Regions from separate parts of the Homo sapiens genome. Here regions 2, 3, 4, 5 and 6 are each linked to region 1. Evidence: fine-mapped expression QTL. A gene starts in region 1. Each other region holds a variant in brackets. All regions are shown on one strand. Distances are from middle to middle.

Region 1 (4,089 bases):
TTTTAATGTGCTTCCTAACTCAGAAACATCTATTTGGGAGCTTTACTCATTACTCCCAGCAAAAGCCATGAGTGTAGATTGTGCGTGAGAGGAAGGATCTGATCCCTGCAGAACGCCAGAATGGAAAGGCAAGAAACAGCCCAAGGTGAGGAGTAAAACAGGCGAGAACAAGGAGGTGGTGCCTGTGAAGCCACTGGAGACCAAAGTGTGAATGTGAGGGGGTGGGTCTCTTGGCCACAGGCCTGAAACCAAATGAACCCCCACCCCCAGGCTGCAGTTCCCAGTGCACTTGGAAATGAGACCCTGACTCCTCCAGGTGAGCCTGGGAGACCTCCCTGACTCCTTTCCATCTCCCCCTCCTCCCCCACACCCATCCCCAAGGCCTGCCCTCTACGCCCACATTTCTTCCCACTTCGGATTCTGTGCCTGGTCTAATGCCCAGGCCCCCTCCCGAGCCTCTGGTCTCCCTAGAGCCACTCCCCACTGTCGGGACACCTCATCTGTGCTCCCCAAAACGCCACGCAAAGCGCTGGAGAGCCTTGGACAATGAACACAACCCACTCCCCCAGCCACCCCCACGCCACAGCCACACGGCACCTCAGAAAGCGGTGTCTTAATCCTCTTGTCCTTCCTCCTAAATCTCCCAGGGGCCCTTAGGCCCCTCAAAGGTGGCCGCTCAAAGCCACCTTGTTAAAACGGTGTCTTACCCACCTGCCCCCTCCCTTGATCCAGACTCACTGAGGTCACAGCCTCCACCTCTGGCCATCCTGAACCCCTCCCAAAGTCAACTCTTCACAAACACTGTTGGTCCCCCTTAGAAGGCCCCATGTCCATCACGGCATTAATTCCACTCACCCTCAAACACCGCGGCCCGGAGGCTCTGATTCCCACCCTGGAGGAGGTTCTCTTGACCCCGCCGGCGCGACCCTCCCCAGCACGACCCTTCCTCCCGAAGGTGATTCCTCATCTTGCTGGTGGTCCCCACAGACCGCAGGCTCTGCAGGCGAGCGCTGAGCCTGGCTCTGCAGATTCTCAGGACCCCATTCGTTTAGCTGAATTATTGAAAGAATTAAGATGGATAAGAGTGCTCAGATTTGAAACTCCGAGACTGGTGGCTTTATTTTTTTGTTGTTGTTGGTGGTGGTTTTTTTGTGTTTTTCTTTTTTTTGTTTTGAGACGAAGTCTCACTCTGTCTGCCAGGCTGGAGTGCAGTGGCGCAATCCCAGCTCACTGCAACCTCTGCCTCCCGAGTTGAAGTGATTTTCCTGCCTCAGCACATAGCTGACATTATTACAGGCGTGGGCCACCATGCCCGGCTAATTTCTGTATTTTTAGTAGAGACCGGTTTTCACCACGTTTGCCAGACTGGTCTCGAACTCCTGATCTCCAAGGATCCGACCGCCTTGGCCTCCCAAAGTGCTGGGATTACAGGCGTGAGCCACTGCGCCCGGCCGAGACTGGTGACTGTAAAGGACAGTGAAGAAGCAGGACAGACGTCATCCTGCGGATCCCAGAGCAGAGAAGAGCAGTGAGAACACAGGGCCGGCAGGTGGGGAGGAGGCTGCAGGGGAGGGCTTCGGCCAGGGAAGGGCAGCGAGGAGACATCCGGGAGGGAGGCGTCCGCGGTGGCTGTGGGCCGCCAAGGCGGAGACCGGCTGCCGCTCCCAGGCACCCCCCAGAGACCGTTGCTGACCCCACCGAGAAGGCACCGCCTCCCCGGGGCTCTTGGCTGAGCGACCTCTCCTGTCCTCCGGTCCCATCACTCGGTGGCAGCCGGTGGACCTGAAGCTCGCCACTCCCGTCCCCTACCCCAGCCGTGCGCGGGGACGCCCTCACCTGCCACCTAGTCCAGCGCTGCCGCCGTCTCCGTGCCGCGCTCCGAGCCTGGACGCCGACCCCCGAGGCGCAGGACCCGGCCCTGCTGCTGCGCTCGCCGCGGACTCCCGCTAGGGCCTCTGCAGGCACCGCTTTTATACCGCAGGGTCGGGCGCCTCCCACGCTTTCTGCGTTTAGGCGGAGCCTGGCGGGACCAGCGGGGGCGCCGCGCGTGGTGGCCGAGGTCAGAGCTGGGAGCAGGGTCAGGTCAGGGTCCCCCCAGTCCGCCCCGCCCGGGGCGATGTCCGCCAATGCTCCCGCCAGCCTGAGGCCGGCCAGGTTCCCAAGGCGCGCGCTCGGCCTCACCCACCCCCGGCGCCAGGGCCTCTTCAGGACCGGGTTCAGAACCTGACAGCCCAGAGAAGTAGGTTGGGAGCCTGCGGCGTCCAGGGCCTCCGCGCGAAGAAACAAGGCGTCTGCGGGAAAGGAGACGGAGCCTGGAACCCTGGGCTTTTGTACTTAAGGAAGCGAAGGTCGGGTGACAGCCAAGCTCCGTGTTCCAGTGGGAAGGTCCCATGGGTCTGTGTTCCACGCCTCTTGTCATGAATATGGGGGATTCACTTAGAACCAAAGCATTTGTTCCAGGTCCCACCACTAACTAGTACTAGTCCTGGGCCCAGAACCAGGCGTCCTCACTCCTAGTACCCAAGCCCTTCTCTAGCCACAGGTGTTTGGGCTGCGGTGTGGTGTAAGCAGCCCCATTTTCCCGCAAAGTGATGGGAAGAGACACTGAGTCACACGGGCTCAGGACACTCCTTGTGTCCTCTATCAGGGGGTCCAGAGGCAGGGACTCGGGGGAGTTGATGCAGCAGTTCGTGATGTCATCAGATATCCCCCCACCCCCTTCCATCTCAGGCTGGACTCAATTGGAAGCATTTCATGTTGGCACGGTGACGTCCAGAGGAAGGGAACAGACAAATGGCTCTCTCTGGAGCACGGAGCGTCGCCCAGAAGCCGTGCCCTCCTGTTTCAAATTGACCAGAATTAGAGCTTTCTCCTGAGGGCCTGAATTAGGGAGAAGCAAGGCAGGTGCCTAAGGCACAAAATTTCAGGAGGGCCACACGCATAGGTGCCAACCCTGCATTTGCGCGGCCCTGAGAATCAGAGCCTCCTTCAATTTGACACCCTAGGTGCCTAGCTTGTTTTTAAAAATAAAACCTTTATTAAAAGACAATTCACGGACCATAATATGCATCCTTTTAAAGCATACAATTCAATAGTTCTTGGTATATTGACAAAGCTGTCCAACTCTCACCACTATCTAACTCCAGAAGGTTTTCATCACCCTAAAAGGAACTGTGATACCCATTAGCAATTATTCTCCATTTCCTCCTTCCCACAACCCCTGGCTTCTGGGAGAGGCTCCGACCTCCAGATTTCTTTTCTGGCCCTGCGGATTGACCGACTGTGAAGATTTCATGCAAATTGAATCATACAATATGTGGTCTTTCCTGACTGCCTTCTTTCACTTAGCATAATGTTTTCAAGGGTCATTCTTGATGGTTCCAGGTAGCATTTGTTAGTACTTTATTTCTTTTTATAACTGAATAATACTTATAAAAATATTATAAAATCAAAAGGGAAATTAGAATGTATTTTGAAATTAATAAAAAATGAAAATAAAAACATCAAAATTTGTAGGATGTTATTAAGTCAGCTTTGGGGAAATTTTGCAGCATGAAATGCCTATATTAGGAGAGGAGAAAGGCTTCAAATCAATGACCTCAGTTTCTACCTTCAAAAACTAGAAAAAGTATAAATACATTGAACACATAATCAGTAGAAAAGAAGAAATAATAAAGATTAGAGAATAAATCAATGATATAGAAAACTTTATAATGATAGAGACAATTGATTAAACAAAAAGCTGTTATTTATTTATCCACTTATTTATTTTTTTGAGGTGGAGTCTTGCTCTATCGCCTAGGCTGGAGAACAATGGCGTGATCTTGGCTCACTGCAACCTCCACCTCCCAATTCCAGCGATTCTCCTGCCTCAGCCTCCCAAGTAGCTGGGACTATAGGCATGCATCACCATACCCAGCTAATTTTTGTATTTTTAGTAGAGATGGGGTTTCACCATGTTGGCCAGGCTGGTCACGAACTCCTGACATCAGGTGATCCTCCCGCCTCAGCCTCCCAAAGTGCTGGGATTACAGGCGTGAACCACTGTGCCTGGCCATACCCATGAATTTTAAGGCAACAAATGGGGGC
Region 2 (4,089 bases), 34 kb after region 1:
GGATCCTCTGTTCGAAAACTACAAATAATTTCAAACTGATGACAGTAAAACATCCATCCAAGTGTGTATCCCTGTGAATGTGGAGCCCTGCATGCTGCATAGGTCACACAGGACCTATGGTCAACAGACAAGAGTCAATTGACCATGATAGTAATTTTACATTTATTGACAATAAAGTGCAATTTATAAAAATTTTCTTAATAAGATCCTATTGAAAAATACCTTATTGAGGAAAAATACCAGTGATGTTTGATAAGAGGTAGATTCAGTTAAGAAATGAATTACAGTGTATGAATGTGCACCAAGAATAATGTCTTAGTGAGCTTAGGCTCCCATACAAAATACCATAGACCAGGCAGCTCAAACAACAGAAATGTATTTGCTCACAGTTCTGGAGGCCCCAAAGTCGAAGATCAGGATGCCAGTGAGAGGTGACAGCATGCTGGCAGCCCTCGCTTGCTCTCCCTGCCTCCTTGGCCTCGGCGCCCATTCTGGCTACGCTTGAGGAGCCCTTCTCTGGGCTGGCTGAGGCCGGAGCCAGCTCCCTCGGCTTGCGGGGAGGTGTGGAGGGAGAGGCACGGGTGGGAACCGGGGCTGCGCACAGCGCTTGCGGGCCAGCTAGAGTTCCGGGTGGGCGTGGGGTTGGCGGGCCCGCACTCGGAGCCGCCGGCCGGCCCTACCTGCCCCAGGTAGTGAGGGGCTTAGCACCCAGGCCAACAGCTGCGGAGGGTGTGCTGGGTTCCCCAGCACTGCTGGCCCACCGGCGCTGTGCTCGATTTCTCACCGGGCCTTAGCTACCTTCTTGCGGGGTAGGGCTTGGGACCTGCAGCCCACCATGCCTAAGTCTCCCCCGCGTTACCGCCGCCGCCGTGGGCTCCCGCGCAGCCTGAGCCTCCCCAACGAGCACCGCCCCCTGCTCCAGGGCACCCGGTCCCATCAACCGCCCAAGGACTGAGAAGTGCGGGCGCACGGCATGGGATGGGCAGGTAGCTCCACCCACGGCCCCAGTGCGAGATCCACTAGGTGAAGCCAGCTGGGCTGCTGAGTCTATTAGGGACTTGGAAAATCTTTATGTCTAGCTAAGGGATTGTGAATACACCAATCGGCACTCTGTATCTAGCTCAAGTTTTGTAAATGCACCAATCAGCACTCTGTGTCTAGCTGATCTGGTGGAGACTTGGAGAATCTTTCTGTCTAGCTAAGGGATTGTAAATACACCAATCGGCACTCTGTATTCTAGTTAATCTGGGGGGACTTGGAGAATCTTTATGTCTAGCTAAGGGATTGTGAATACACCAATCAGCACTCTTAATCTAACTCGAGGTTTGTAAATGCACCAATCAGCACTCTGTGTCTAGCTGATCTGGTGGGGACTTGGAGAACCTTCATGTCTAGCTAAGGGATTGTGAATACACCAATCGGCACTCTGTATCTAGCTCAAGGTTTGGAAATGCACCGATCAGTACCCTGTGTCTAGCTCAAGATTTGTAAATGCACCAATCAGTGCTCTGTGTCTAGCTAATCTAGTGGGTACTTGGAAAACTTTTGTGTCTAGCTCAGGGATTGTAAACGCACCAATCAGCACCCTGGCAAAACGGACCAATCAGCTCTCTGTAAAACAGACCAGTCAGCTTTCTGTAAAATGGACCAATCAGCAAGATGTGGGTGGGGCCAGATAAGGGAATAAAAGCAGGCTGTCGGAGTTAGCCGTGGTATGTTTGCTGAGATCTGCTTCAATGTAGTGAAAATGGTTATTCTTCTTGCTTTTTTTTTTTTTTTTCTCTTTTTTTCAGTAAATGTGCTGTTTTTCGGTTTTGTTTCCTGTATGAGCTGTAACATTCTTTGTAAAGCTCTGTGGTTTTGTTTTTGAAGGTATGAAAATAGAACCAACCCATTTGTAGAGTTAAACAACTATCAGGAGCGTATGGCGTTATGTAGTTTATGACACTCACTGAATGTTTTAGAGCTTTACTCTTGAGCCGATGAGATCGCTAAGCCCACCATGAAAGAAGTAAAGGGAGGACATACCGCTTTAAAGAACTTGTAACACCACACGGGTCTGTGGCTTCATTCCCGAAGTCAGTAAGACCAATGAACCCACCAGCACAGTGTTTTTGGTGATGGTTGTTTTTAGCAACCTTAACTGTAAAAATTTCTCGTTTAAAATCATGAATTACGTGTTAAGGTTTCAACGTATGAATTTGTGGAGGGGGCTGGGCACAATTCACTGCATAGCAAATAACTGTACTTTGAGAATAACGTATATTTAAAGTTTAAATTGTGAATTTTAAAAATTCAATTTGATCTTTTCCAAACATTTTTAAAGAACGATTTGACAGTCTTAGGTCCTCTAATAAAAATCACTTGCAGTGAATTTTTAAAAAATGGACAAGTAATAGTTGTGTAGACTTTTGCAATGTTATGTTTTGATACATGCTTACATGGTAGTGAAACTGGGCAAGTTCCCTT[G/C]TTCCTCTCGGGATGTGTGATGGGGCTGATGGCTCACTTTAGTGCCCTGCTGCTCCAACTTTTAGGAGAGAATACAGACAGGTAGGCTGTGGGGCTCCAACCCTTTTGCAGTGTCTAGGGCTGAATGTTTACAACTCCTGAAGCTCCACTGGGCATGTGTTAGAGTGCTTTTTTAGTTTAGCTATCCATAGGTGGCTTGTGTTAACCAGTTCAATCAGACCCCTACCTTATCGCAAGGACAGAGGGCTTTCTGTATCCTGGGGTTCCTGCCTTGGTGTACCAGAAGAATCGGATCACATGTGGGCTTGGAGAATGAGTGCAAGGTAAGTCTGGCAACCTGGGCTCTCCTTCAACTGCCCCCGTCAAACTGCGTTGTTCTGCCGGTGGATGGCCTGCCTGCATGCCGGTGCCTGCTGGTGCATCCCATTCCTCTCAACTTCCAGCCGCTCGTGTGTTCCTCCACTGATGTACTCCTCTCGATATGCAGCCACCTGTGTGTCTGCCTGCTAGCGTCTCAGGGTTTTACAGGCACAGGGTAGGGGCGTGGCAGGCCAGGGTGGTCTTGAGAAGTGCAACATTGGGGCAGGAAAACAAAAATGCCTGTCCTCAACTAGGTCCGTGGGCACAGGCCCAGGGTTGGAGCCCTAGCCAGGGACCACGCCCTTCCCCCCCCCGCCATGTTATTTAAAGAGAGCACACCCTTCCATATCAGTGGAATGGCTAAAACAAGCTAATTCCCATACGCATTACCTCATCTATTTTTTTTGTGATGAGAATGTCAGAGTAGGCGGTTAGACGTGAGCAGGGCATGCACGGGCCCCCAAGAATGTTGGACATTTGTCAAGCCACAGTCACAATTATAAATCTGTCCCTCTGAAATAATGAGCAAGACAAGGAAGGGACCCCAGAGCTGTCTGGTTCTCATTGGGACCGGGATTGAAGGGCATAAAACTATCCCTCTAGGGTAATAAGTGGCCATGGCTGGCGCTGGGAATAACAGGAGTCTTGCAACAGACAGAAGACACCTGGAGTTAGCAAGGCAGTCCCAGACAAGGTTTTGAGCATGTGCAGTAATAGAAAGGTGTGAAATTTACCCGGTGTATGACTTTCCTCTAGGGGCGCTCGACCAGTAAGGGAGAATTGCATCTAATGGGCATGCGCACAACTTCAGTAACCATCCAGCGCCTACTGGGAGGGCTACTGGGCATGCAATACTTGAGGGCCAGCCCGGGAGGTGAAGAACAAAGAGTGGAGACAGCCTGGAAAAGAGTAAGGGGTATAAAAACTGTAAGCAGGCCTGGGGTGGTGGCTCACGCCTGTAGTTCCAGCACTTTGGGAGGCTGAGGCAGGTGGATCATGAAGTCAGGAGATCAAGACCATCCTGGTTTACATGGTGAAACCCTGTCTCTACTAAAAATACAAAAAATCAGCCAGGCGTGGTGGCAAGCACCTGTAGTCCCAGCTACTCGGGAGGCTGAGGCAGGAGAATCGCTTGAACCCTGGAGACAAAGGTTGCAGTCAGCTGAGATTGTACCACTGCACTCCAGCCTGGGCAATAGAGCGAGACTCCGTCCAAAAAAAAAAAAAAATCAAAGCGGAAGCAGCACTTGATTTTTGAAG
Region 3 (4,089 bases), 46 kb before region 1:
ACAGGGACGGCTCTATCTCTTGGGTGATATTCTGGAAAAGTCAGTCTTGACTTAGTCAAAGGCATCGGTAATTCCCCAACAGCTGAGAGCAGACTCCATGCTGCGGTTTTCTTGTAACTTGAATCGAGGAGACTTCCACATCTTTGCTATCCATTGCGCCTGGCTTTGTCCACTCGCTGACTTCTTCATATATAAGCTCATTTTCCACCTGGAAGAAAAGAGGAGAGAGCCTTAGGGCCCCAGCATTGGGTCCGCACCGAGGCCTACACTGCTCCCCCCATTCCCACCTAGGACCATGGCATCCCAGTCCTCTCTCCCTGTGGGAGGCTTTCACAGAGGTTCACATGGGCCCAGGCCACTATGATTTTCTGAGTCTCCTTGTTTAATAAAGAAAATGAAGTGCCAAATATTGTGGTATGTTTTAAAATTTTGTATTTAACAAGTGATCTTTCAAAAATGCAATGCAATCTAATTGCGCTATTCCGAAGTTAAGCATAGGATTTAGAAAACATTCTTATGGCATTTCTTTCATGGAACATGAGCTTAACTTTTATCATTAAAGTAATTTCTGTCCGTCTTTTCAGTGTATCTGTCTCTGTGACTCTAAGTATAGTAAGATTACTAGGAAATAATTTCAACATTTTAACTTTGAGGCCCTATGTGAGGCCCAAGATAAGCCCCACGCACCCCCATTCCCAGCCACAGGCTCTGCTGCCTGGCACCTCAAGGTCTGGACCCTGTACAGGGCTCCCACATGTCGACACAAGCTCCCATGTGTCACCTGTGCCTAGTAGAGAGGTGTATATTGCAACAAAAACTACAAATCAAAACAGGGCTGCAGCTCAAGAATCTTCAAGTTTCCTGTACCCCACCACTGGTTTAAGACAAGGATCAAGTTCATTTCAAGTAACTTATTAGTTACTAGTTAGTAATTGGTGGTAATTTCTTTTTTTTCTTTTTTTTTTAGATGGAGTCTCACCCTGTTGCCCAGGCTGGAGTGCAGTGGCACGATCTTGGCTCACTGCAAGCTCCACCTCCCGAGTTCAAGCCATTCTCCTGCCTCAGCCTCCCCAAGTATCTGGGACTACAGGTGCCTGCCACCATGCCTGGCTAATTTTTGTATTTCTAGTAGAGACAGGGTTTCAGCATGTTGGCCAGGCTGGTCTCGAACTCCTGACCTAAGGTGATCCACCCACCTTGGCCTCCCAAAGTGCTGAGATTACAGGCGTGAGCCACTGTACCCAGCCGATAATTTCATAGATTATCAGCTACCCTGCACATATTCATGTATTGCTTGTCAGTTGACAGGAAAGAGTCTTATCTTATTGGCCAAGAATTTAGCCGGCATCTTTGATCCCATCAGCAGTTTTGCACTTGATATTTGAGGAGTTTCAAAATGCTAGGAGGCTTTGATATTTTCTTTCACCTCAAAACGAAAATGAAACATGGTCCAAAAAGTTTGCGCTAAGACCAAATGGCCAGTGCAATTTGTACAAAGAGTTAACACTGTCCTTTTGGATTTTCAGAAAAAGAGCAAGTAACCTTTATGGAGACTGAAACCATAGCCATTTCCATGGAAGGTTGGGGCAAGAAGCCCTATTTTCAATTTGCTCACAC[A/G]GAGGCTCTTCATGGGAAGGCCAGACTGCCATGGATGAAACATACAGCGGGGATGTATCCGAACACCGTCTCCTGGCCTGTGAAACAGACCAAGAAGTCCCCTTGGAGTTAGAGGGGCCTCTGTGAGCCCTGAGAGATGCTGCAGCCCAAGGAAGACATGGGAGGAGGCACTAAGCAGTGTCCCAGGAAGTCACATAAAGAAAACATCATTGGCTGCGCTGCTGCAAATCTGTGTCTGGGAGTTTGGGCCAGGGTGAGAGGGTCGCAGGCTCTGGGCGAGGTTTAGGAAGCAGGAAAGAGGAGTGGACCCGCTGGAAGCCAGAGGACAAGGTGGACGGGGTACAAGGAAAGGGGTCCGCCAAGGGCAGCCTGGGAGGACCCTCCTTGATCATGAAAAAAATGAGCAAACGGACACAAATGTCTTTTCAAAAAAGATGCCAAAGGTTGGCCTCAGCAAAGTCCCCTGAAGCATCCCCTTCTTGCTTTCCCTGAGAAGCTAGATTCTGCGTGTGGGGTGGGGCATCCGGACTTGGTGGCTTTCCTTCTGAGCTTTCCCCACCTGAGTCATCTGCAAAGGGCAAGGCTGCAGGCGGGAGAGGCCGGTGTGATGTGACCGCCAGCCACGGTCCCCACACCCCTCTCTGAGGGCTGTCCCCTCCACCTCATGCCATGACAGGAAACTTTATGACCTGTTCACTAAAAAATCACTTAAGGATTGGAAAGCACCTGTCTATAAATAAAGGCAAGGGGGCTGCCATTTTAAAATTGGGGGTGAGACTGGTCGTGTGCTCTCGAGTGGGCGGGGACTTACAGTAACTCAGAGGCAGGGCAGTTCAGGAGCTGTACATGAGCAGAGGCCCGGGTGCTTGGAGGCCGGCCAGCGTTGGTGGGCCTTCCTGAGGACAGGGTATTTGAGACATACAACAACAGACATAAGCAAGGTTATGATAAAGCTGCAAACCGTTTTCCTGTTTTCATGGGGGCGTAAAGCTAAAGCAGCACTGAATTAACTCTCGAAGTGGGAGGAGAGATCACTGTTGAGGCGGGAGAGGGGATATGGAAAAGTCTGCGTTAGGACTCAGCTGTGTCTGCCGCCAAGGCAAGGGTAACTAATAGATAACAGGCCTTAAGAATTGCTATCTTTGCTCCTCTTCCTGTCTCCCCCTCTCCCTCCCCCTCCCCCTTCCACCCTGTTTCTCCCTTCCTCTCACCCCCTCTCTGCTTCCTGTACTTTTTTTTTTTTTTTTTTTGAGCCAGAGGCTTGCTTTGTTTCCCAGCCTGGAGTGCAGTGGCGGGATCTGGGCTCACTGCGACCTCTGCCTCCCGGGTTCAAGCAATTCTCCTGCCTCAGCCTCCCGAGTAGCTGGGATTACAGGCACACGCAACCATGCCTGGCTAATTTTTGTAATGTTAGTAGAGATGGGGTTTCACCATATTGGTCAGGCTGGTCTTGATCTCTTGACCTTGTGATCTGCCCACCCCAGCCTCCCAAAGTGCTGGGATTACAGGCATAAGCCACCATGCCTGGTCTCTTCTTTCTTTCATCTGGCTTCTAGAAAAAGAAAGTTCTGCCTCAAGGCCTGGGAAAAATAGTTTGGTTTCATTTTGTTTTTCTCCAGCTGACAGTGGTTCTCTGAGTGAATGCCCCTTTCTCATGGCCCCACCTCTGTTTGACCCACCCTACCTCTTCCCCACACCCAAACCAGCCTCCTTCTGCTGCCAGATCATCCTCGGAGCCAGAGATCCCCGCTGGTTTGGACAATAAACATTTGTTGTGCACTTTCTATTACAGTGCCAAATATCAGGTTAGGTTCTGGGGAGATGAGAAAGGATTAAGCAGTGTCCCAGCCTCCAAGGAGATCATGTGACTCCACTGATCATAAATGATGGCCCTGGAAAAAGTTCCAACTCCTCTTCAGTATGGCTCCAGCTGAATGGCTCTGTCCCCTGCCCCTTCTCTGTCTGGGCTGGTCCCTCTGGTAACTGTCTTATGGGTCTTCTCCCTCCACACCGTCGCTCATGCAGGCCCTTCAGTGTAGTACAGCCTCACAGATGCTCAGCTCAGCAGCCCTTTGCTTGAGCTTTTGGGTTTAACCTCCATCCTCTTCCTGTTGTCTGTATCTCTGCGTCATCAAACATCTAAATTTAAGTCTCCTATCTGTGTGATCTTAGACAAGTGTCTAGTGTCAAGTGTCTAGTGGACAAAGGTTTCTAAACCTTTGTCCTCCATTCCTCATTTGTGAAAGGAAGGTAATGGCTTCCGCTTTGTCCATGGCTTAGAGTTGTTCTAAAAATCAAATAACATGATAAATAAATTTAAAAAAAAACAAGTAAGATAACAAGGGCTGGTCCAGATGTGGAGGAAGGGAACACCTGCACACTGTTGCTGGGAATTTAAATTAGTACAAGCATTCAGGGAAACAGTATGGAAGTCCCGCAAAAAATTAAAAATAGAATTACCGTATGATCCAG
Region 4 (4,089 bases), 61 kb before region 1:
CTTGGACAGCTGTGCTGCCGTGTTACCTCTGGTCCCCAGAAAAACCATGGCCATAGCAGATGAAATGCTGAAGGGAGAGATGAAGATGTTTCCAGCCGGATTGTTCTCACTCAACGCCAGGAACAGGTCCAAGGCGAAGCGGGTGTTTGCTGAGCTCAGCTGCTCCATGGTGAAAACTGCAACACAGAACAGGGTCCTCATGGTGCCCACTGCCCACGCCAGCAGATTAGGCAGCACTATTTCTCCAGAAGCTTCCTCAATTTCTGCCAACCGCCCTGAGGCATCCTGGATCTTGTACTTTCTCCCCGCTTTTTTATTCCAGCAGGGCAAGAACACTTTCCCAGGCCCACAAATGTGGGACCATTCTGGCCAAGGACTCAGCAGTTATAGGGGATTTTAGGGCACCCAGGGTGCCCTAAAGGGCTCTGACCTTGCAGACAGGTGAGTCTGGGGGTGGGGCGGGGGTAAGGCAGGCCCCAGCTACCCCAGCTTTAGTGGGGTGGGAGGGCCCACCCAGCCCTGGGTCTTCCCAACCTATGTGTGGGAGCGCACGTGCTTCTGAGCCTTTGATTCAAGTCTCTGATTCATTGGGCAATGAATCCATTGCCTACCTTCACCTGAACTAAGAGCCTTCTATCAGAGACTCAGCTACCTACTATGCATTAAAACTCCAGCAAAGGTATCACTGTAATTATTATAATAATATAATTCTTCCTTATTTTTGAGGTTCAAAAGGTATGAGGTCCAGTGCCCACAGTCTCAGAGCCGGTGTAGGATGTGCCAGTTTGGAAACCCACCACAGTCCAGGGTCTGGCCGTGCAGCGTCCCATCCGCCACCCACTAGCCCATCTCGATCTCCACTCTCAGAGCCCTGATTTCCCCCGAGGACAGGCAAAGAAGAACCGTGCTGGCTGCTCGGCATGTAAGCACAAAGCTGATTTCTCCTTGTTGTGAAATCGTCTCTAGAATCGCACGGGGTTCCTCCTCTCTCTCCCTGCAGCTGCAGATAGGAGCCGCGGCCTGGCCCTGGGCTGCCTGGAAACCGTCACAAACAGCTCTGGGAGGAAGGGAATTCAGGGAGAAGGGACAACATTCTGATCTCAGGTTTCAGTCTTGCCTTCCGCCTGCATCTGTCGTCCTCCCTCCCTCCCTCCCTCGCGGGCTGGCCCGGCCTGTACCCAGGCGGGGGCGGGGGATCAGAGGTCGTCTGTCTCCGTCGGGGCGCCCGGAAGGGATGGGGGCGCGAAGCTGGCGGGGAGGGCGAGCGCAGGGAGCTGCGGGTCTGAGGGGCCTGAGCCTGGGGGGTGGGGGGTGCCGGGCTGGAAGCTGAGCGAGGGAGCCTGGCCTCTCCCCGCGCCCGCCCCCGCGCCACCGCTCCGAGGCCCGGCCTTACCCGACAGGCCGCCGAGGCACGCTCCGGGCTCCGAGCTGGGTGCGAGGTCAGGAAGGAGGCACCGAGGGCCGCTGCTCTTATAGCAGGCGGAAGCGTCACCCGGGCCAGCAGCCGCGGGCGGGGCGGCGGCCCTTCCCGGTGACTGCGTAGGAGTCCGAGCTCCCGAGGTCGCCTAAGTGCAAGCAGAAGTGAGCGTGGCTTCCGGGCAGCGCCCTCCTCAGGGGCGCGGCTTCTTTCTCAGTTCAAAGCCTTTCCCCGAATCTCTGGCAAGGACCTGAAAAGCTTTTTCTTACTAAGGTGTGAATGACTGAGACGACATATTGTGACACCTCTTAGAGGGCAAATGACTCCCTTTGAGTCCCATCTATATTGGGAGCTTTCTTTGAGAGAAGGAAGCAAATTTGGGGATCTTGCACAGGGAAAAAGAGGGGCCCCCAGAATCAGATGAAACAGAACCAGTTCCAAACACCTGCTCTCTGTTTCCAAGATGACAGCTTGCTGCTGCGTCCTCAATGGTGGAAAGTGGAAGGGCAAAAGGGGCCAAATCTCATGTGAAGTCTCTCGTATAAGGGGCCAATCCCATTCATGAGGAAGGTGCCCTCATAATCCAGTCACCTCCTAAAGGCACCACCTGTTAGTATTGCATTGAGGATTGTTTCAGCATGAATTTTGCAGGGAACACAGACATTCAAAGCATAGCATTCTGCCCCTGCCCTCCAAATTCATACCCCTCTCACATGCAAAATGCATGCATTGTATCCCAGTGGCCTCCAAAGTTCCAGTA[T/C]CAACTTTAAAATGTAAGTCCAAAGTCTCACCTAAATATCTTCTAAATTAGAAAGGCATAAGATTCAAAGTACAATTCATCCTAAGTGAAATTCCCCTCCAGCTATGAGCCCGTGAAATCAAATAGGTTACAGGCCTTCAAAATACAGTGATGAGACAGGCATAGGACGTACATTCCCATTCCCAAAGGGAGAAGCAGGCAAGAAGAAAGGAGTATCTGGTCCCAAGTAAGTCCAAACCCAACAAGGCAAACAGCATTAAATCTTGGGGCTTCAGAATAATCTTCTTTGATGCTGTGTCCCCCATTCCGAGCACAGGGGGGTGGAGACTGGGTCCCCTAGTGTCCAGGGGATCCACTCCCATGGATTTGCCAGGTGCAACCCATGCAGCAGCTCTCACAGGTTGAGGTCTAGGCTCTCCCAGGATAGACTTGCATGCTGGTGGCTGGACAGTTCTGGGTTCTCAGGGACAGCCCTGTTCCCACAGCTCCACTAGATATTACTCTATTTGGGGCTCTCTGCAGTGGCCCCAATCCCACTGCTCCACTAAACATTGCCCTAGTGAGGGTTTTCTGCAGCAGCCTCACCTCAGTGACAATTCTCAGACTGGGCCCCCAGGGTCCCCAACACATCCTTCAAAATCTAGGTGGAGGTGGCTGTGTCTCCACAGTTCATGCACTCTGTGCACCTGCAGAGTTAGCATCACGTGGACTCTGCCAAGGCTTACAGGAAGGGTGGCCTGACAAGGGCCTGCATAAGCCACACGTGGGATGGTGGCCAAAGAGTGCTGCACCAGAATGTGGGGGGTGGGGGGGCAGAGACTTGAGGCAGCCCTAGGCAGCAAGCCCCAAGGTTCCATGGTGTCCTGAGTCCTCCCTTAAAACTATTCTGCCCTCAGGGTCCTGGCACTCTGGGACAGGGATGAGAATCCAGAACCAGTAACCTCAGAAATGCCTTTGGGTTCATTCTTCCATTGTCTTGATAAATAGCATCTGGCTTCCTTCTACACATACTCATCTCATTATCAAATGTGAACCTGGCAGCACTCTTGGTGTTCCCTCCCAAACATGCCTTTTCATTCTTTACATGGCCAGGCTGAGAATTTTCCAAAACTTTAAGCTCTGCTTCCCTCTTGATTATAAACTTCGTTTTTAATTCATTCTCTCTGCTCACATTTTACTACAAGCAGTCAAGAGAAGCCATGCTGCACTCTCAACGCTTTGCTCAGAGATTTCTTCCATCAAATATCCTAGTTTATTGCCTTTAAGTTCTGCCATTCAGAAAACACTAGGACATAGACACAATTCAGCCAAGTTCATTGCCACTGTGTAACAAGGATGACCTTTCCTCCAGTTTCCTTTTAAGATCTCATCAAAAGTGTCTTTACCATCTATACTTCTAACCGCATTCTGATCAAGACCAGACCACTTAATTAATCTCTAAGATGATTTAGGCTCTCCCTACAGCTCTCCTTGTCTTCTGAGCCCTCACCCTTAATTTCCCTTAAAGCTCTGTTTATGTCTATACAGGCTTTTTCCAGCATGCATCTCCAAATTCTTCCAGCCTCTACCCATTACTCAGTTTCAAAGCTGTTTCCACATATTTAGGTATTAGTTATAGCAACATCCCATTCTCAGTATCAATTTCTGTCATAGTCCATTTGTGCTGCTATAAATACCTGTGATTGGGCAATTTATTAAAAACAGAAATGTATTGCTCACAGTTCTGGAGGCTGGGAAGTCCAAGAATAAGGCATCCACATATTTGGTGCCTGGTGTGGGCTGCTCTCTGCTTCCAAAATGGCACCTTGTTGCTGCATCCAAGGGGGAAATATACTGTATCTTCACGTGGCGGTGGGAGGGATGGAAAGGGATGAACGCACTCCCTCAAGGGCCCAAATCCCACCCATGACGG
Region 5 (4,089 bases), 21 kb after region 1:
CAGTGGGTTACATCTATGGCATACAACAATTTAACATAATAATCATAATTACTACTGACAATATATACTAAGACATATCTGAATTTGAGGAATCTTATACAATCCTGGAACAAATATTAACGACATATCTATATAAATATAACCCAAAGGAAGCTAAACACCACCTCAGATTTGACAGTGCTTTCTGAATAATTCTAACATAACAAATAAGCCTAAATTGTCTCTCTTGGGCTTCAGAGAATTTAATATTCAAAAAAGTTAGTTTGAGGTCAAAAAGACTGAATTTAGAACTTGAAATTTTGCTCTTAGAAAGTTTGCCAAATATCAGTGTTAAGATACTTGATTATCACAAAATAGAACCACAGGTCACTATAAAATAGTCATTTATTTAGCCAAAATGATAAAACAAAAACATTTACCTTTTGATAGAGAGGAGATTCAGCTTCCCAAACAATAAAACCTAATAAACACAGCATGAGGCCAACGAAATCTGTCTCTCCCCCTCCATTTTTTCGCTTTAGTTTACAAAAAAGGTATACAAAAATCTTTTATCTCTTACTAATATTACACAAATATTTTGTTCAAAAGAGAAAATCAGAATTTTACCTTTGTATGGTGTATTATTAATGTTAAAGCTAATTTTGATAAAACCTTACAAACAAATCTAATTTTAATCATAAGGTAAGATTACCATATACTTTTTATAACCGTTTATGATTTTCTGTTAAAGAACAGATCAATGCTTCAAGAAACCCTGTTATTCAGACATATGGGCCTAGACGCTAGCCTTGCACCAGTGCACTTTTGATATTAATGTTTAATTTACAGAACTAATGTTATCCCTCAAAATTGGCCCTTACAATCCCATAGGCCCACCTCTTCTGCAATAGTCCCTGGGCCTAGAGGGTTGAATAGTTTTAATTTCTGGCCCTGTGTCTCACAAAAGCAGTTCATTTTGATTGTCACCTTCTCCCAGATCTGAGGGTCTGAAGATGAGCCTTTGACAGGTATCAGTGCTCAAAATTTAGCAGGGGTTGGTGTCTTTTTCAGACCCAGGAGTCAAAGACCTGTAACTTAACAGCAGGAGGATTAGTTAAAGGGATATTATTTAGACTATGGAAAGTTCTATCATTCTAACATGTCACAAGTTAAAATATTGTGATTTGGCATTCAGTAGTTGCTGCCTGCACACTCCAAACCACTGTATTAAAGTATTTAGGTTACTCGTTGCGAGTATCTAGTTGCTAGCGTTCTGGTGACAGAACTGTGACCCAAAGCATCCAAAAGTGATGGGGCCTGTACCAAACATATCAAAACAAAACAACTAGCTTTTCTCTCCATCATTAAAAAATGGTAAATGCAAATATCGGTTTTAGAAATTCAATGAGGATAAATAAGCTCCTTTCACTTAAATAGTATACAACAGAGCAAAGACGAGGTAAGAACAAGCACACAGTAATTTCTTTTCAGCTATGTTTAAAGAACATCATCCCATATTTCCAAGATTAGTTCCTAGATACAGTACTGAGAACGAATTAAGTAACTTTCACCACTAAAATCTTCAAACCAGCGCAACACTTGTACATATTTTTTTCATGTACACATATGAAAGCCCATCAGTGATAAACGGCTTGAGATCAAAAATCACTAGAAAGTCTCACATTCTTTATTACTACTTAATCCAAGTGAATGTCAACACAACAAAATAATGGCCAACACAACTACATTTTAATAATGGTCAACACAACTAAATTAGCTTCAGAATAATCCTAAGCAATACAATTTCATTAAGGATACAGCCAATCTTTCCTGAACATTAAAATGTTGTACTCATATCACCGTGTTTCCTCACTACCTAAAGGAAAGATCTGAAACCAACTGAAATTATTGACTGAATTGAATTACCTTGGAAATAAACACCATTTAAACATTTTCATTCTCACCCACTTCTTCAAGTAACAAAATAAATAATGTGCTATTTCTGCTCAGAACTTCCAAAAATTAGTCTTTTATTTTTTTCCTAGGTGCCTTAAAGGTCTTGTAGCTCTCCCCATCATCAAGCAAAACCAACCAAAATTTAAATGGCTGATGTCCTTTATCAATTTTTGGATGCCTGACAAAGGGGCTTAAGAATTTTAGATAAATAAAACAAATGATGAATTGCTGGAAATGCATAGGAAACAAAATGACTATTTATAGAACAAAATAAAAGACTTCCACGGGAAACTTAAAAACATCAATGGTTTTATATATGCATATATATGTAAAACCCAAAGGAGAACAAACAGCAAATAAATGAAAATTAGAAGCAGAAGGAAATAAACAGGAAACCAACCCCAATTGTTCTCCTACTCAGTTTACCTTAGAGGCTAAAGTGTTAACCAGCATCTTAAAGAAACACATAATAGATATTTTGTTCCTGATATACAATTCAATGTATTTAAGTCTATCAATAACATGATATATTTTGTGCAATTAAGACATTCACTTTGGGTATATGACCAGTAATTACTTTGGTGCTAGTACTATCTATGCAGAATTGCAAATATAGTGTGAAGCAGTGCAAA[T/C]GTGTGTGTGAAATTTCGCTCCATGGTAATCTGGCTTCATACTTAACTACATTTAAAAAGAATTGCCAAACTGGCAATGTATTTCTTTATAATATTTCTTATTCTACCTTTATCAAGACTAAGAGCTTTAACTATGAACAATGTCAATTAGCCAAATGTCTTCAATTTTCTATCAGGTTTTAAAGAATATTTTATTATCTAAACTTTCTCAACTTGCTATTTTTTTTTTTTGGTATGTGCATGAAGACAGACACAGAGAAACAGAAAAAATTACATATGATTTACACAGACCATCTATCACATGCTTGGATTTTCTGTTTTGTCCTAAATTTTCTCTCTGTTTTTTAATAATTAGTCATTTTACTTTAGGAAAAAAAATCACCATACAATATCCTTTCTCACACAAAATTATTTTTCTTTATAACCTTCCTTAACAAAAATACATCTTCACATACATAACTTTCTTCCCATCTCTCTTCCCTACTTACTGGTTCCTTACTACGCTTTTCATAAATAACCTTTTCAAGTCCATAATTTGAATTAACCTTTAGATAAGTTCTAAATCTGACAAAATTATTCTTTATCTCACAAGAACACATCTTCTTTGGCACATTTTATATACAGAATTATATATTAACTATAATTCCTATCCTCAGTAACCTTAAATTTTAGTGAAAACCTAGGAAGCAAGAAGTCCTGAGCTGCCTATCAGACATTAGCATTTTATAGATGAGAACCATTTGACAATTTGAAGGGGGCCACCAGCACCCGCCTCTGAGTTCCCTCAGTATTTACTGATCATTATTTTTACTATCTTAGCCAGCGGAGTGTAGCAGGGCAACACGTGGGGAGAAGGTCAGCAGGGAAACATGTGAGCAAAGGAATCTGTATCATGAATAAGTTCAAGGAAAGGTACTGTGCCTGGATGTGCACGTAGGCCAGATTTATCTTTCACTTTACATAAACATCTCAGTGTAGCAAAGAGTAACAGAGCAGCATTGTTGCCAGCTTATCTTGCCTCTAGCCACAGGGTGGTTTTCTCCTATCTCAGAATCGAACGAATGGGAATGGTCGGCTTTACACTGAGACATTCCAATCCCAGGGAGGAGCAGGAGACAGAAGCCTTCCTCTTATCTCAACTGCAAAGAGGCCTCCCTCTTTCACTACTCCTCCTCAGCACAGACCCTTTACCGGTGTGGGCCTGGGGCATGGTAAGGTCTTTCCTTTCCAACAAGGCCATATCTCAGGCTGTCTCAGTGGGGGGAAAGCCAGGCTTTCTTGGGCAGTGGTCCCTGCAGCTTTCTGCAGTGCGTTGTGTCCCCGGTTAATCGAGAATGGAGAATGGCGATGACTTTTACCAAGCATACTGCCTGCAAACATATTGCTCACAAGGCACATCCCACAGAACCCTAAATCCATTAAATTTTGATTCAATATAGCACATGTTTCTGTGAGCACAGGGTTGGGGCTAAAGTTACAGGTTAACAGCATCTCAAAGCAGAAACAATTTTTCTTAGTACCG
Region 6 (4,076 bases), 40 kb before region 1:
AGAGAATGAAAGCAGGCTGCCCGAGCCAGCATTGACAACCTGCTCAGATCTCCTTCCAGACTGTGGCAGCTTTTTCTTCTTCTTCTTCTTCTTCTTCTTTCTCTTTTCTTTTCTTTTCTTTTCTTCCCCCTTCTCCTTCTCTTCTTCTCTCTTTCCTCTCCCTTCCTCCCCCTCCCTTCCTCTTTTCTCTCGCTTTGCAATAAATCTTACTGTTGCTCGTTTTGGGTCTACACTGCTTTTGTGAGCTGTAACAGTCACGGTGAAGATCTGCAACTTCACTCCTAAGCACAGTGAAACCATGAGGCCACCAGGAGTGAATTAACAACTCCAGATGCGTTGCCTTAAGAACTGTAACATTCACTACGAAGGTCTGCAGCTTGCCTCCTGAGCCAGCAAGACCGTGAACCCACCAGAAAAAAAAAACTCCAAATACATCTGAACATCAATAAAGGACAGACTCCAGATGTGCCACCTTAAGTGCTATAACACATCATGAGGGTCTGCGGTTTTGTTCTTGAAGTCAGTGAGACCAAAACCCCACCAATTCCCGGTCACAAAAGGGTATAAAGTTTGAATTATGGGTTGAGCATTCTGGCTCACACCTGTAATCTCAGTACTTTGAGTGGCTGAAGTGGAAAGATAAGTTGAACACAGGTGGGGGAGGTAGCAGTGAGCTGAGATCACACCACTGCATTTCAGCCTGCGTGACAGACTACCTCAAAAAGTTTAAGGTACTCAAAGTTAACACATTTTGGAAATCTAAGGTACAGCATGGCTATGAAAGTTCATGAGAATGTATGCTTGAGATGTGCTAAGAGTAGATCCTGAATGTTCTCATCACATACACAAATGATAAGTAAATGTGGAGGATATGTTAATTTGCTTGACTATGGTGATCATTTCACAATGTATCTGTATTTATGGTTTAAATGTTTGTTCCCTCCCAAACTCATGTTGAAATTTAATTACCACTGTAACAGTATTAAGAGGTGAGACCTTTAAGAGGTGATCAGATCATGAGGGCTCTGCCCATATGAATGGATTAATGCATTTATCTGGGGAGTGGATTCCTTATAAAAGGACAATTTGGGCCTTCTTTTGTCTCTCATCCTCTCTTGCCTTCCACCTTCCACCATGGGACGAGGCAGCAAGAAGGCCTTCACCAGATGCCAGACCCTCAATCTTGGATTCCCTGCCTCCAGAACTGTGAGGAAATAAATTTCTGTTCTTTATAAATTACCTAGTCTGTGGTATTCTGTTATAGCAGCACAAAATGGACTAAGACATATATCAAAACATCACATTGTACATTGCAAATGTATACAATTTTTGTTTGTCAACTATACCTCAAGAAAGCTAGAAAAAATCAAATAGTCAAATGGATCTAAAGTGTTTCTAAGTAGCAAAAGTGCTTTACACATCTATTTTGTTACCATGTTCTATGTCATATTGAAGGTGGGCTTGCCTTTCCACCTTTGGAGTGGATCATAAAGTCCTTGAAGAATGGTCTTCCCACAGTATTCAGCACACAGGAGTACCCAAGACATTTGTGTAGAGTTCCTCTGAATTAAAGCTGATGTCAACAACACTTCAGATGTCACCAGAGGGTAGGCAGGGCTGCAGAGTCACCCACCTTCAAGGATGATGCTCCAGTCATACCCAATGTGAAAGGTGTCCCCTGGAGCCATGCAAACAAATGAGGTGGCCCCAAGAACAGGATCCTAACATCTCAGGAAGTCAGTCGGCCTTGCTTGGCCACAACTTGAGTTGCACTTAATTTTTAAACTACCATTAATCCCCCAAAACAGGTGGTGAGAAGGTATTTTATATATGAGTGTAACGGCTTTGTTCTCATTCTAAAAGAAAGCAGATGTTATTCAAATCAGATGACCACAACCAGATGACGGAAAGGGGAAGGCAAAATGTTTTAACTTATTAAAAATATAAACTTGACTCAGAATACTCACATGATTCAGCTAAAGAGAAAATCATCTCTGGTGTTTAGGCACTCATTTGCATTTAAAAACCCAAAAGGAATCATTGTGA[C/T]GAATTGTTGATATTAATATTTGTATTAACTGTCTAGGGCTGCCATACATAACAAAGTACTTTAGGCTGGGCAGCTTAAACAACAGAAAGGTATTTATTGTCTCATTTCTGAGGGCTGAAAGTCTAAGATCAAGGTGTCAGTAAGGTGGGTTCCTTCTTGGGACTCAGAGGGAGAATATGTTCCAGGCCTCCCTCCTTAACTTGCAGATGGCCCTCCTCTCTCTATAGCTCTTTAGTGTTTTCCCTCTGTATGTGTCCGTGTCCAAATTAACCCTTTTATAAGGACGCCAGTCATATTGGGTGACCTAATGACCTCATTTTGCCTTAATTACCCCTGTAAAAACCCTGTCTCCAAATACAGTCACATTCCAAGATACTGGAGGTTAGGAATTTAACATATGAATTGAGGGGAGTGAAGAACAACCCAATCCAGCCCATGACAGTGTCCTAGTGTTTCAAGACAGTTTCTGCACAGATAGACATGGAGACATCGTTCTATCCTTACCTTGCTGATTTTAAGACTCCCTACCCCACACACAAGTTGCTGCTGTTGTTTATTTAATAAAACTGTGTAGATCACTTTCCTTTGAAACACTGATGCACAGCTGTGGAAGGTGGGGTATCTGGGATTACATGCCGACATCCAACCTCGCTGGACCTATCCGGCCCCAGGCATTGCACCAAGGACTGAGATACACTCGTGGATTTAATCATCCAAACACATCTCCTAGGAGGAAGGCCATACATGATCCCCCCAGGCTGAGGCTTCTTAAGGCTCCCCAAGGGGAGGTGGACTTGACACACTGAATACAGGATCACTCCCAGTTGCCCAAAGAGTTTACAGGGCAGAATTACCTTTTCATCTTTATATCCCCAGGGCCTGGGCCAAAGTCAACATTCCTACATGTTTGTTAAACTAAGCTGAACTGGAAGAAACTGCTCCAAATACCAGTGGATTCTTTGGCCGCCATGCCCTGAGCTATGTAAGGCATATGCCTCCTCCATCATTTAGTAAGAGATAACTAAAGAAATGTTTGGGCTGGGTGCAGTGGCTCACACCTGTAATCCCAACACTTTGGGAGGCCGAGGCGGGTGAATCACTTGAGGACAGGAGTTTGAGACCAGCCTGGCCAACATGGTGAAACCCCGTCTCTACTAAAAATACACAAAAAAATTAACTGGGCGTGGTGGTGCATGACTGTAATCCCAGTTACTCGGGAGGCTGAGGCAGGAGAATTGCTTGATCCCAGAAGCCGGAGGTTGCAGTGAGCCCACTCTGTCTCAAAAAAAAAAAAAAAAAAAAAAAAGAAAAGAAATCATTTGCTGATGACTATTGTTCTAAAGTTTTTTGTTTTTTGTCTCCCAGAATAATTAAAAATTGATTGCTTTTCCTTACCTAATAATTTTCTTATCTACCACATACCAATTTATATGTAGTAGAAATAGTTGTGGAAATAAATTTCTGTCCTTTATAAAGTACAATGCTGTTAACAACAGAAAACATAAAAATTAAAGACCCCACCCTCTGTCGCTTTCACCACCTAAGCAATTGTGTGTGTTGCAGGGACACCGCTGCAGCCTCTGCAAAGGACGGCCCCTCTGGCTTGGCCTGATACAATTTCTGGCAAGATTCTTTAAAGTTTTGGGGGAAAGACCCATCCTTCTTATGCCTTCATAGGAATGAGAATTGTATTCATTGCCACAATCTTTCTTGTTTCTCCATAGTCAACAACTTTTCTGAGAAATGAAAACCCTAAAAATTGTCCTGATGAGAGAGTCAGCTACCAACAATCCCAGAGTGTTGAGAAGAGAGGGCAACAGCAGCAACGGACCAGGCATAACCAAATGGAGACGGGGCAGCCTGTTGTGGGGAGGGTCAGTCGTAAAATAATCGGCCCATTTGTCCATTGTATTCCATGACCAGATTTTAAGCTCCTTGAAGATGGGATTCTGTCGTGATTTTGTGACCCCCCTCCCTTCACCTTGCAACACGTAGGATAGAACTCACTGAGCATTTGTCTCTGAAGAAG

What was found. PIP is the estimated chance that this variant, and not a neighbour inherited with it, causes the effect.
Region 2: its variant is fine-mapped to the expression of SERPINB9 in whole blood (INTERVAL, PIP above 0.99).
Region 3: its variant is fine-mapped to the expression of SERPINB9 in whole blood (INTERVAL, PIP above 0.99). The same link has a PIP of 0.9 or more in visceral fat.
Region 4: its variant is fine-mapped to the expression of SERPINB9 in whole blood (TOPMed, PIP above 0.99).
Region 5: its variant is fine-mapped to the expression of SERPINB9 in whole blood (TOPMed, PIP 0.91).
Region 6: its variant is fine-mapped to the expression of SERPINB9 in whole blood (TOPMed, PIP above 0.99).

Annotation. Positions count from the first base shown.
Region 1 is chr6:2,901,365-2,905,453 of GRCh38, forward strand. It overlaps SERPINB9 (serpin family B member 9), which reads right to left and starts at 1,945. Exons shown (of 7, transcript NM_004155.6): 1 at 1,837-1,945. RefSeq lists an enhancer at 1,409-1,910 and silencers at 1,621-1,670, 1,911-1,990, 2,091-2,140.
Region 2 is chr6:2,935,241-2,939,329 of GRCh38, forward strand. No RefSeq gene overlaps it. Among named protein-coding and RNA genes, the nearest start is that of SERPINB9, 34 kb to the left of the region's middle. The variant G/C (reference allele first, on the strand shown) is at 2,470.
Region 3 is chr6:2,855,483-2,859,571 of GRCh38, forward strand. It overlaps the pseudogene SERPINB9P1. Among named protein-coding and RNA genes, the nearest start is that of MIR4645, 3.4 kb to the left of the region's middle. RefSeq lists an enhancer at 3,097-3,676. The variant A/G (reference allele first, on the strand shown) is at 1,618.
Region 4 is chr6:2,840,419-2,844,507 of GRCh38, forward strand. It overlaps SERPINB1 (serpin family B member 1), which reads right to left and starts at 1,445. Exons shown (of 7, transcript NM_030666.4): 1 at 1,394-1,445; 2 at 1-176. The coding sequence starts at 168. RefSeq lists a silencer at 1,340-1,389. The variant T/C (reference allele first, on the strand shown) is at 2,178.
Region 5 is chr6:2,922,539-2,926,627 of GRCh38, forward strand. No RefSeq gene overlaps it. Among named protein-coding and RNA genes, the nearest start is that of SERPINB9, 21 kb to the left of the region's middle. The variant T/C (reference allele first, on the strand shown) is at 2,568.
Region 6 is chr6:2,861,178-2,865,253 of GRCh38, forward strand. It overlaps the pseudogene SERPINB9P1. Among named protein-coding and RNA genes, the nearest start is that of MIR4645, 9.1 kb to the left of the region's middle. RefSeq lists an enhancer at 1,528-1,857. The variant C/T (reference allele first, on the strand shown) is at 2,047.